Linked DNA regions of Homo sapiens. The protein of the gene in region 1 interacts with the protein of each later gene in a pairwise test. Each region holds a gene or a part of one and is shown on either strand. Other genes may lie near its edges.

Evidence for each region.
Region 2: the proteins of DCAF6 (region 1) and GTF2IRD1 interact in a two-hybrid assay, tested with the Homo sapiens proteins (one study listed by BioGRID and IntAct).

The regions. Positions count from the first base shown.
Region 1 is NC_000001.11:168,072,656-168,076,348, forward strand, and holds the end of DCAF6 (DDB1- and CUL4-associated factor 6), read left to right. Parts: intron 1-2,715; coding exon 2,716-2,780; 3' UTR 2,781-3,181; downstream 3,182-3,693. UniProt on the Homo sapiens protein: Ligand-dependent coactivator of nuclear receptors. Enhance transcriptional activity of the nuclear receptors NR3C1 and AR. May function as a substrate receptor for CUL4-DDB1 E3 ubiquitin-protein ligase complex.
Region 2 is NC_000007.14:74,596,899-74,603,137, reverse strand, and holds the end of GTF2IRD1 (general transcription factor II-I repeat domain-containing protein 1), read right to left. Parts: intron 2,095-6,239; coding exon 1,958-2,094; coding exon of another isoform or gene 1,841-1,957; exon of another isoform or gene 844-1,840; intron 774-843; coding exon 705-773; 3' UTR 533-704; downstream 1-532. UniProt on the Homo sapiens protein: May be a transcription regulator involved in cell-cycle progression and skeletal muscle differentiation. May repress GTF2I transcriptional functions, by preventing its nuclear residency, or by inhibiting its transcriptional activation.

The DNA of each region.
Region 1 (3,693 bases):
ATAAGTACACATCTAGTATCAAATCTCTAGCTAACAATGAATTTGTATTATTTCTTTTAAAGAAAGTAAATAAATTCTTTGTAAAGGGTAGCCTGGAAAATAAAACAACAGTGTTTTTTGTGAAACACAGGCTTCCATTGGGAAATTTTTTTCTTATCTACCTTCCCTCCCTCTGCAGCAAACTCAGTGTCTCTTCATATCATTATCTTCCCCAGTTTCCTGAAGAAATATTCTAACAGAATAAAAGGAACCTTTCTACAAATGTAAACCTTATTTACAAAAGCAATTTGACATTGCTACTTCTGAAAAACAGTATACATAGACATCCTGGCTAACATGGTGAAACCCCATCTCTACTAAAAACAAAAAAATCAGCCGGGTGTGGTGGCACGCTCCTGTAGTCCCAGCTACTCGGGAGGGCGAGACAGGAGAATCGCTTGAACCCGGGAGGCGGAGGTTGCAGTGAGCCAAGATCGCGCCACTGCACTCCAGCCTGGGCGATAGAGCGAGACTCGGTCTCAAAAAAAAAAGAAGAAAAAGAAAAACAGTATACATAGAAGTGATTCTTATTTCCAGTTTTTATTTAAGAGAACACACTGTTCTTCAGACCTCCTTGTCTATAATTGCCAACCAGAGATTTGTATAAGTGTTAACTGCTTTGCAGCCTTACTACTTCAGTAGCATTTCATGAACAGAAGATTTAATTAATTCTGAGAAGTTGGGCTTACATTCTGGAAGAGGTGACTATGCATCAGTTAAATGAATTGAATTTGAGGAGAGAACAACTATTCTGCTTTCCTCATTTCAGAAGCCACTGTCACTTATTCTGTGACCTATCGTAAGACTCTTGGCCCTCATTTGTCTCTTTATTGTGTGCCTCTGAGTGTAAAAGTCTAACCTCTACTGCAAACTCCCTGATTTAAAGGCTGTGACATTTTTTTCTTAACTCTCTATTATCCCATCTTCTTTATAATGTGACAACCAAAAGAAATTTGAGTAAGAAGCCTGCCAACTTTGAGATAGGCCGTTACTGCTTCATCATGCTCTAACATGACAGGATAGGTTTCTTGAATATATTCAGTCATACTCAGGATTCCCATTCCTGAGCCCTACTTAAGTAGAATAGCAACTTCATGTTTTGTTCTCTCTTGAAAGTATCACACAATAAAAACAATGTAATTTTTTTTATACTAATATCCCTTAGGTAGCCTTTTATTGGTCAGAAATTCTTCTACTGTGTTTAAATTCCTTACTGATCTATAAAGGTCTATTCAAATCTTATTTTGTTCATTTATTTTATAAATATGTATTGAATACATATTTATAAAATAAATGAACAAAATAAGATTTGAATAGACCTTTATAGATCAGTAAGGAATTGAATACTTATTTGTATTCAATACCTATTTGTATAATTAAGGTTATAAAGGTTACACATACATTATGTCATTGGTTTGACATTGGATTAGAGTTGGCATAGAGGAGATTTAATCTAATTCACTTGGACAATTAAACAATTAAAAGGGACATATAGTCCCTTCAGTGTACTGTTCTTGGTGCTGTTGACCTAGGATCCAGTGGGAGCATTTAATCCTGTGTAGATAATAAATAAAATCTCAGGATTCAGTCTTCTCTTGCTGTTGACAGTGGGACTGAACTGTTTTCCTTATGCTTAACCTTAATATTTTCCATGTTACTATGTGGAAATGTTTCTGGGGCAGAAACATCCTAGTTCCATCTCAGTGATGGTAGTGATTTTATGCTGTTGCCTTCTTCACAATACCCTTATGTAATGTATCTTACCTTCATAAAACTTATATTCATTTATTCAGTAAACCTTCATTGAACATCCTATACTAGGCTCTGAGGATATAAAGATAAAAAGAAGTAACTCCTGCCCTCCAGGAACTCTCAATCTGGTCTGCAGGAAGACATGCAAACGACTATTACTGTAATTAGGATCATCATTATGAAGTTCATATAAGATATTCTAGAATGTGGAGGAGGGAGTTCATAATTCTGCAGATAGCCTGTTTGGAAATGTCCAGGAAAAGTTTCACCAAGGGTATAATAGTTGTATTGAGATGAGTAAACCTTTATAGCTAAAGAATTGGGCAAAAGTATCCCAAGCAGAGGAATAGCAAGTGTAATTCCTGAAAACTTGAACGAGCATACTGTACTCACCAGTTTGTAAGTTTATATTCACTTGAGTATTTAACCTAAATAAGCTCCTTGAGACCAGAAATTTACATCTGTTTTGGTCACCATTGTATTCTCAGGTTTTATCACAATGCCTGGAACATAGTATTTAATTTAAAAAAATCTTTTTACAAACAGAATTACACAAATCCTCAACAATCGTCCACATATTTTCTCTCACACAGCTGCCTCCTCACTCCCCTTTGCAGCACCTGATGTACCTCCTTAGAAACCTAGACTCCAAAGAACACTGTTTGACAACCACTGCAGTAGAACATAATATATCAAGATTTTAGGAGTGGGTTTCTTTTTTCATTTTTACATGTTTTAGAATAACATGCATAATCAAAGCTAATAATACTGTGTTTTCTTTACTCTTTTATTTGCCTCTAAAGACATCCACACATAGTGGTGAACTGATTTTTAATGCGTTTTAAATAAAAGGCATTGAAAAATATTAATAATTGTAATTACTAAAAGTATTTCTCTTTGCGATTCTCTTATCTGTGTTTCCAGACCGGTTGGAGGGTGACAGATCAGAAGGCTCTGGTCAAGAGAATGAAAATGAGGATGAGGAATAATAAACTCTTTTTGGCAAGCACTTAAATGTTCTGAAATTTGTATAAGACATTTATTATATTTTTTTCTTTACAGAGCTTTAGTGCAATTTTAAGGTTATGGTTTTTGGAGTTTTTCCCTTTTTTTGGGATAACCTAACATTGGTTTGGAATGATTGTGTGCATGAATTTGGGAGATTGTATAAAACAAAACTAGCAGAATGTTTTTAAAACTTTTTGCCGTGTATGAGGAGTGCTAGAAAATGCAAAGTGCAATATTTTCCCTAACCTTCAAATGTGGGAGCTTGGATCAATGTTGAAGAATAATTTTCATCATAGTGAAAATGTTGGTTCAAATAAATTTCTACACTTGCCATTTGCATGTTTGTTGCTTTCTAATTAAAGAAACTGGTTGTTTTAAGATACCCTGAATTTGACTTTTTATTTAATGCCTTGCTACTTTGACCCACAGTTTTCCAATCTCTCCTGTAGCATACGATGACTATTTTTCTATATTTTCTAGATTTAACAACCTTTTCCTTTTTTGCTTGTGTGGGATAGAATCACATAGAAGGACTTCCTTCATTTCTCCTTCCACGGTACAGCTGACCCTTGAGCAACCCAGGGGTTAGTGGCACCAGCCCCCCTCACAGTTGAAGATTCATGTGTAACTGTTGACTTCCCAAAAATTTGACCATTAACAGCCTGTTGATCGCAAGCCTTACTGATAGCATGGTCAATTAACACATATTTTGTATATTTTATGTGTTATATTCTATACTCTTACAATAAAGTAAGCTACAGAAAAAGTGTTATTAAGAAAATCATAAGGAAGAGAAAATATATTTACTGTTCACTAGGTGGAAATGGATCATCATAAAGGTCTTCACTGTTGAGAAGGCCGAGGAAGAAGGAGGCGTTGGTCTTGCTGTCTGAG
Region 2 (6,239 bases), on another chromosome or scaffold:
GTACAGACGGGGTCTCCTTATGTTGCCCAGGCTAGTCTCAAACTCCTGACCTCAGGTGATTCACCCGCCTCAGCCTCCCAGAGTGCTGGGATTACAGGTGTAAGCCACATTTAACATTTTCTAGAGAAAGGGTTCTACTATGTTGCCTAGGCTCATCTCAAACTCCTGGTCTCAAGCAATCCTCCCACCTTGGCCTCCCAAAGCATCGGTATTACAGGCCAATGAGGTCGAACTCCTGACCTCAAGCAATCCACCCACCTCGACATCCCAAAGTGCTGGGATTCCAGGCATGAGCCACCACGCCCGGCCCCGTGGCACATTTTCCTTCCGTGGCTTTTCTTCTTGAGGTCACGTGCTCCCAGGAGCACAGAGAGCTCTGGGGTCTTCCTGGACACTACCTCTGCTGTGATGAAGAAGGAGGGCCTTGGCAGGCCACCTGAGCTGCGTTTCCTGACCCTGTCCCCAGTGACAGCTGCGGCCACGATCCAAAAGAGAACATGAAACAGTGACCGTAAAAGTAAAGGCAACACTCTTTTTTTTTTTTTTCTTTTTTTACTTATTTAAAAAGGCCTTGGTGGCAGGAATATAGTGTAAAAATCATTGGAAAAACTAAAAGGCATCGATACATATCCGAATATACATTTTGTACATAAATTACATTTCCTTTAGTCTTTCTGAGTGAGGTCCTGATTCAGTACTGAGGTCTAGTAATTAAGAGGTCCCGGGAGCTGCACGTTCAGGCCGGCATAGTCCACCATGTACATTGGCCATTGCTAGAGAGAGGGACAAAGGGACTGGATTAGGACTCCAGGTGATGCGGAACAAACCCAAAATGCTTAGTTCTGCTTTTGGAAGAGCTTTCTCAGAGGCTATTTATTTATATTTTTTATTTTTTTGAGATGGAGTTTCACTCTTCTGCCCAGGCTGGAGTGCAGTGATGCAATCTCGGCTCACTGCAACCTTGGCCCCGCGGGTTCAAGCGAGTCTCCTGCCTCAGCCTCCCGAGTAGCTGGGATTATAGGCGCCCGCCACCATGCCCGGCTAATTTTTCTATTTTTAGTAGAGACGGGGTTTTGCCATGTTGGCCAGGCTGGTCTTGAACTCCTGAGCCTCAAGTGATCCGCCTGCCTCGGCCTCCCAAAGTGCTAGGATTACAGGCGTGAGCCACCACACCCAGCCTATTTATTTATTTTTGAGATGGAGTCTCGTTCTCTTGCCCAGGCTGGAGTGCAATGGGACGATCTTGGCTCACTGCAGCCTCAATCCCCTTGGGCTCAAATGATCCTCCTGCCCCAGCCTCCCAAGTAGCTGCGACCACAGGCACGTGCCACCATGCCTGGCTAATTTTTTTTTCTGAGACAGTGTTTCACTCTTGTTGCCCAGGCTGCAGTGCAATGGCGCGACCTCGGCTCATTGCAACCTCTGCCTCCCAGGTTCAAGCGATTCTCCTATCTCAGCCTTCCAAGTAGCTGGGATTACAGGCATGAGCCACTATGCCCCACTTTGCCCGGCTAATTTTGTATTTTTAGTAGAGATGGGGTTTCCCCGTGTTGGTCAGCCTGGTCTCAAACTCCTGACCTCAGGTGATCCACCCGACTTGACCTGCCAAAGTGCTGGGATTACAGGCGTGAGCCACTGCACCCGCCAGCCATGTCTTTTCATGTCTCCAGCTCTGGTGCGGCTGAAGGGTGTGGGCAGGTGGACCTCAGCCGGCCCATCTGCCCAGCGAGGATGTGAATTCCTGCCTGAGTGCCTGTGAGTACCCCACGAGAAGGATGGGCTACCTCTTGGGTGAGACAGGTGGATGCATCTATAACCCCCGAGGCCGGAAGGTCCCCACTCAAAGCCCAGTGCCTCCCCGTCCCCTGGGCCCACATCCCAGAGTAGACGGCCCTGCCAGACAGAGGGGTGAGGGCCACAGAGATGAGTGCCGGAGTCCAAATCGGTGCAACTTTACCACGAGTGAGATCTGGTTGGCCGATGCCACTGAATCCGGGTTAGAGGACGAGGAAGAGGAAGACGAGGAGGAAGAGGAGACGGAATTTCCTTCCGAGACCCGCTTTCTCTTGCGCTTGGGAATGCTGCTGTCTTTGGCTGGAAGGAGGGGAAAAGGCTGTTGACACTGGAAGCTGAGGCTTTTCTGTCTCAGCCTCCTGAGCTCCCTGGAAAAGTGCTCTGTCTTAAGGTTTCGAGTCCCCCTTTCAGGATTTCAGGCTCCTGATCCCCTGGGGGTCAGGGCCCACCTGTCCAGAGCCCACATGTCCAGCCTCCTTCCCAAAGCAAGCCCGAGGGCCCACTCTCCCCGGCCTCCTGCTCTTGCTGGCCTGCCTGCCTTTGCTAACACCGTATCCTCATCCCCATGTGTCCCTCCTCCTCCCCAGCAAGCTCACCCCTTAGGCCCTAGGTCCTCTCTCTTTCTGGTTTTTTGAGATGGAGTCTCGCTCTGTCACCCAGCCTGGAGTCCAGTGGCGCGATCTTGGCTCACTGCAACCTTTGCCTTCTGGGTTCAAGCGATTCTAGTGCCTGAGCCTCCCAAGTAGCTGGGGTTATAGGTGTCTGCCACCACGTCCAGCTAATTTTTTTGTATTTTGAGTAGAGATGGGGTTTCACCGTGTTGGGCAGGCAGCTCTTGAACTCCTGACCTCAAGTGATCCATCCACCTCGGCCTCCCAAAGTGCTGGGATTATAGGCATGAGCCATCGAACCTGGCCTATATTGTTTTTTAGGGTCTCACTCTGTTGCCCAGGCTGGAGTGCCATGGTGCAATCGTAGCTCACTGCAGCTTCCAAGTCCTGGGCTCAAGCAATCCTCCCACCTCAGGTTCCCGAGTAGCTGGGACTATACGTGCGCGCCACCATGCCTGGCTAACTTTTTGTATTTCTGCATCATTATGTTGCCCAGGCTGGTCTCCAATTCCCAACCTCAAGCAATCCTCCTGCCTCAGCTTCCCTAAATGCTGAGATTACAGGCATGAGCCACCGTGCCTGGCTCATGGCAACAATATTAATCGCATTCTCAGTTTCTGAGTATTTTCTGGGTGCTGGGCACTGTGCTAAATGCTTTGCACATTGTCTGCTGGGATCCTCCCAGCAACCCTCCAAGATCCTATTCACATTTCACTCACGAGCACCCGAAGGGGCAGGGCTGTTAAAGGACTTTCTCCAAGGCCAAGTCTGCGTGGCTCCGGAGGCCACATTCTTTCCTGGGCTCTTTAAGGCTGTGAGGGGATGTGGGACCCCAGGAGAGGCTCTGGGAGTTCTGGGGAGGCTGGAACTGCAGGCTAGGTTGTCCAGGGAGGGTATAAAGAGGACCTGGGGCCAGGCGCAGTGGCTCACACTGGTAATCCCAGCACTTTGGGAGACCAAGGTGGGTGGATTGACTGAGGTCAGGAGTTCGAGACCAGCCTGGGCAACATGGTGAAGGTTGAAACCCTGTCTCTACCAAAATACAAAAAAATTGTATTGCTATGGTTATCACTAATGTATGGTGGTCCTGAGTGGAGAGTTCACAGGTCCAAGTAGACAGGCAGTGCCCCAGTGAAAGAAACTCTGGTTTAGAATCAGAAGTCCTAAGTTCAAATTTCACTGTGGCCACTTACTATTATCACTGTGTGAATCTGGGAAAACTGATGAACCTCTCTGAGTCAAATGGGGAAACCAGTGTGATGTGAGACTCAAAAAACACCGCATGCATAAAAGAACCCAGCACCTAGTTCAGCACGGAGGAGGGGTCAGCAGGTGTTCTGTGGTTGCTGGATTAACTTGAGGTGAAGATGTAAGACTTTGAGCAGCACGTCCTGATTGGATGGATTACTGCATGGAAACCTCGCCCAGCCCAATAAAGAAGGGCTTTTATTGTCTTTTTGAGACAAGGTCTCACTCTGTCACCCATGCTGGAGTGCAGTGGTGTGGTCTTGGCTCACTGCAACCTCCACCTCCCAAGCTCAAGTGATCCTCCTGCCTCAGCCTCCCTACAGGTGCACACCACCCTGCCTGGCTAATTTTTTGTAGAGACGGGGTCTCTGTATGTTGCCCAGTCTGGTCTTGAACTCTTGGGCTCAAAGAATTCTCCTGCTTCAGCCTCCCAAAGTGCTGGGATTACAGGCGTGAGCCACTGCACTCAGCCCACCGGAAGGGTCTTAATGACACAGAGTAAGGGCAGGCTGGGTCCATGGGGCAAATGTCTCTTCAACTGGTGGAGAAGTCAGAAACTGGGGGTCTGTGGTGAGGCATAGAGACCCTGCGAAAGAGAAGACCCTGGAGGCAGGAGGAGCCCAGGCTATGAGTCAGAGGGATTTTTGTGGGAGATTCCACATGAAAAAGAAGTCAGAGGCTGCCCCACCCTCTGTCTCAGACTGGTCCATGGGCTGTGGCCATCCTTGAATCACCATGAGAGATGGCCACATTGGAGGGAGTGGTGGATGTGGGTGACAGTATCCACCCTCTGGGCATCTGTCCCAAATCCTCCTGAGGCTTTCATGTGGCCTTCTGTGTCTCTGCCATGTTTTGTTTTGTTTTTTTTTGAGACAGAGCCTGGCTGTGTTCCCCAGGCTGAAGTACAGTAGTGTGATCTCAGCTCACTGCAACCGCCGCTTCCTGGGTTCAAGCAATTCTCCTGCCTCAGCCTCCTGAGCGGCTGGGATTACAGGCGCCCACCACCACCCCCGGCTAATTTTTTTTTTTTTGGATTTTAGTAGAGACAAGGTTTCACCATGTTGGCCAGGCTGGTCTTGAACTCCTGACCTCAGGTGATCCACCTGCCTCCCTGCCTCAGCCTCCCAAAGTGTTGGGATTACAGGCGTGAGCCACCGCGACTGGCCTCCTCTCTGCCTTTGACCTGAGAGTAAACCAAATCGCCTCCAGATCCGTGTGTTCAGTGCCAGACCTGACCCTTTTAACTGGCTCTTTTTTTTTTGGAAACAGGGTCTCACTCTGTCGCCCAGGCTGGAGCGCAGTGGCACAATCATAGCTCACTGCAGCCTCCACCTTCCGGCCTCAAGCACTCCTCCTGCCTCATCCTCTTGACTATCTGGGACAACAGGTACGCGCCACCACGCCTGGCTAATTTTTAATTTTTTTGCAGAGACGGAGGGAGGGTCTCACTTTATGGCCCAGGCTTGTGACTAGCTCTTGATGGAAGGAGGTGGCTTCTAGCTGGGCTGTGCCACCCCAGGCTGTGGAGTTCCAGGTGAACCTGGTCCTGACAGGAGTCAGGGCCTTGGGTCTCAGGTAAGGTTGTGGCGTGGACTTGCTGAATCCTATCACTGTCCCTGTTGAGCAGCCATACTGGGCCGTGTGGCCCACGGTGGTCTATGGTTCAGATGGGTGGTCCTGAGAGCAGGGTCTACACAGCATCTGACTCACTATGTGGCCTGGGCAAGTCCCTGGGCATCTCTGTGCCTCAGCTTCCCAGCTGTACAATGAGGTGGGGTAAGATTAGATCAGTATTTTTTCTTTCTTCTTCTTTTTTATTTCTTAGGAGACGGGGTCTCGGCCAGGCACAGTAGCTCACGCCTGTAATCCCAGCACTTTGGGATGCTGGGGTGGGAAGATCACTTGAGGTCAGGTGTTTGAGACCAGCCCGGCCAACATGGTGAAACCTCACTTCTACTAAAAATACAAAAAATTAGCTGGGTGTGGTGGTGCATGCCTGAAGTCCCAGCTACTCGGGAGGCTAAGGCATGAGAATTGCTTGAACTCAGGAGGCGGAGGTTGCAGTGAGCCAAGATCGCAAGATTGACTCCAGCCTGAGTGACAGAGTGAGACTCTGTCTTGAAAGAAAAAAAAAAAAAAAAAAGGCCGGTAGCAGTGGCTTACGCCTGTAATCCCAGCACTTTGGGGGGCCGAGGCAGGTAGATCATGAGGTCAGGAGTTCGAGACCAGCCTGGCCAATATGGAGAAACCCCGTCTCTACTAAAAATACAAAAAAATAGCTGGGCGTGGTGGCAGGCGCCTGTAATCCCAGCTACTTGGGAAACTGAGGCAGGAGAATCACTTGAACCCGGGAGTCGGAGGTTGCAGTGAGCCGAGATCACACCACTGCACTCCAGCCTGGGCGACAGAGTGAGACGCTGTCTCGGAAAAAAAAAAAAGAGATGGGGTCTCATTCTGTCATCCAGGCAGGATGGCATAATCATAGCTCACTGCAGCCTTAAACTCTTGGGCTCAAGTGATCCTCCAGCCTCAGCCTCCTGGGACTACAAGTGCCTACTACCATGCCTGGCTAATTTTTAGAAAAAC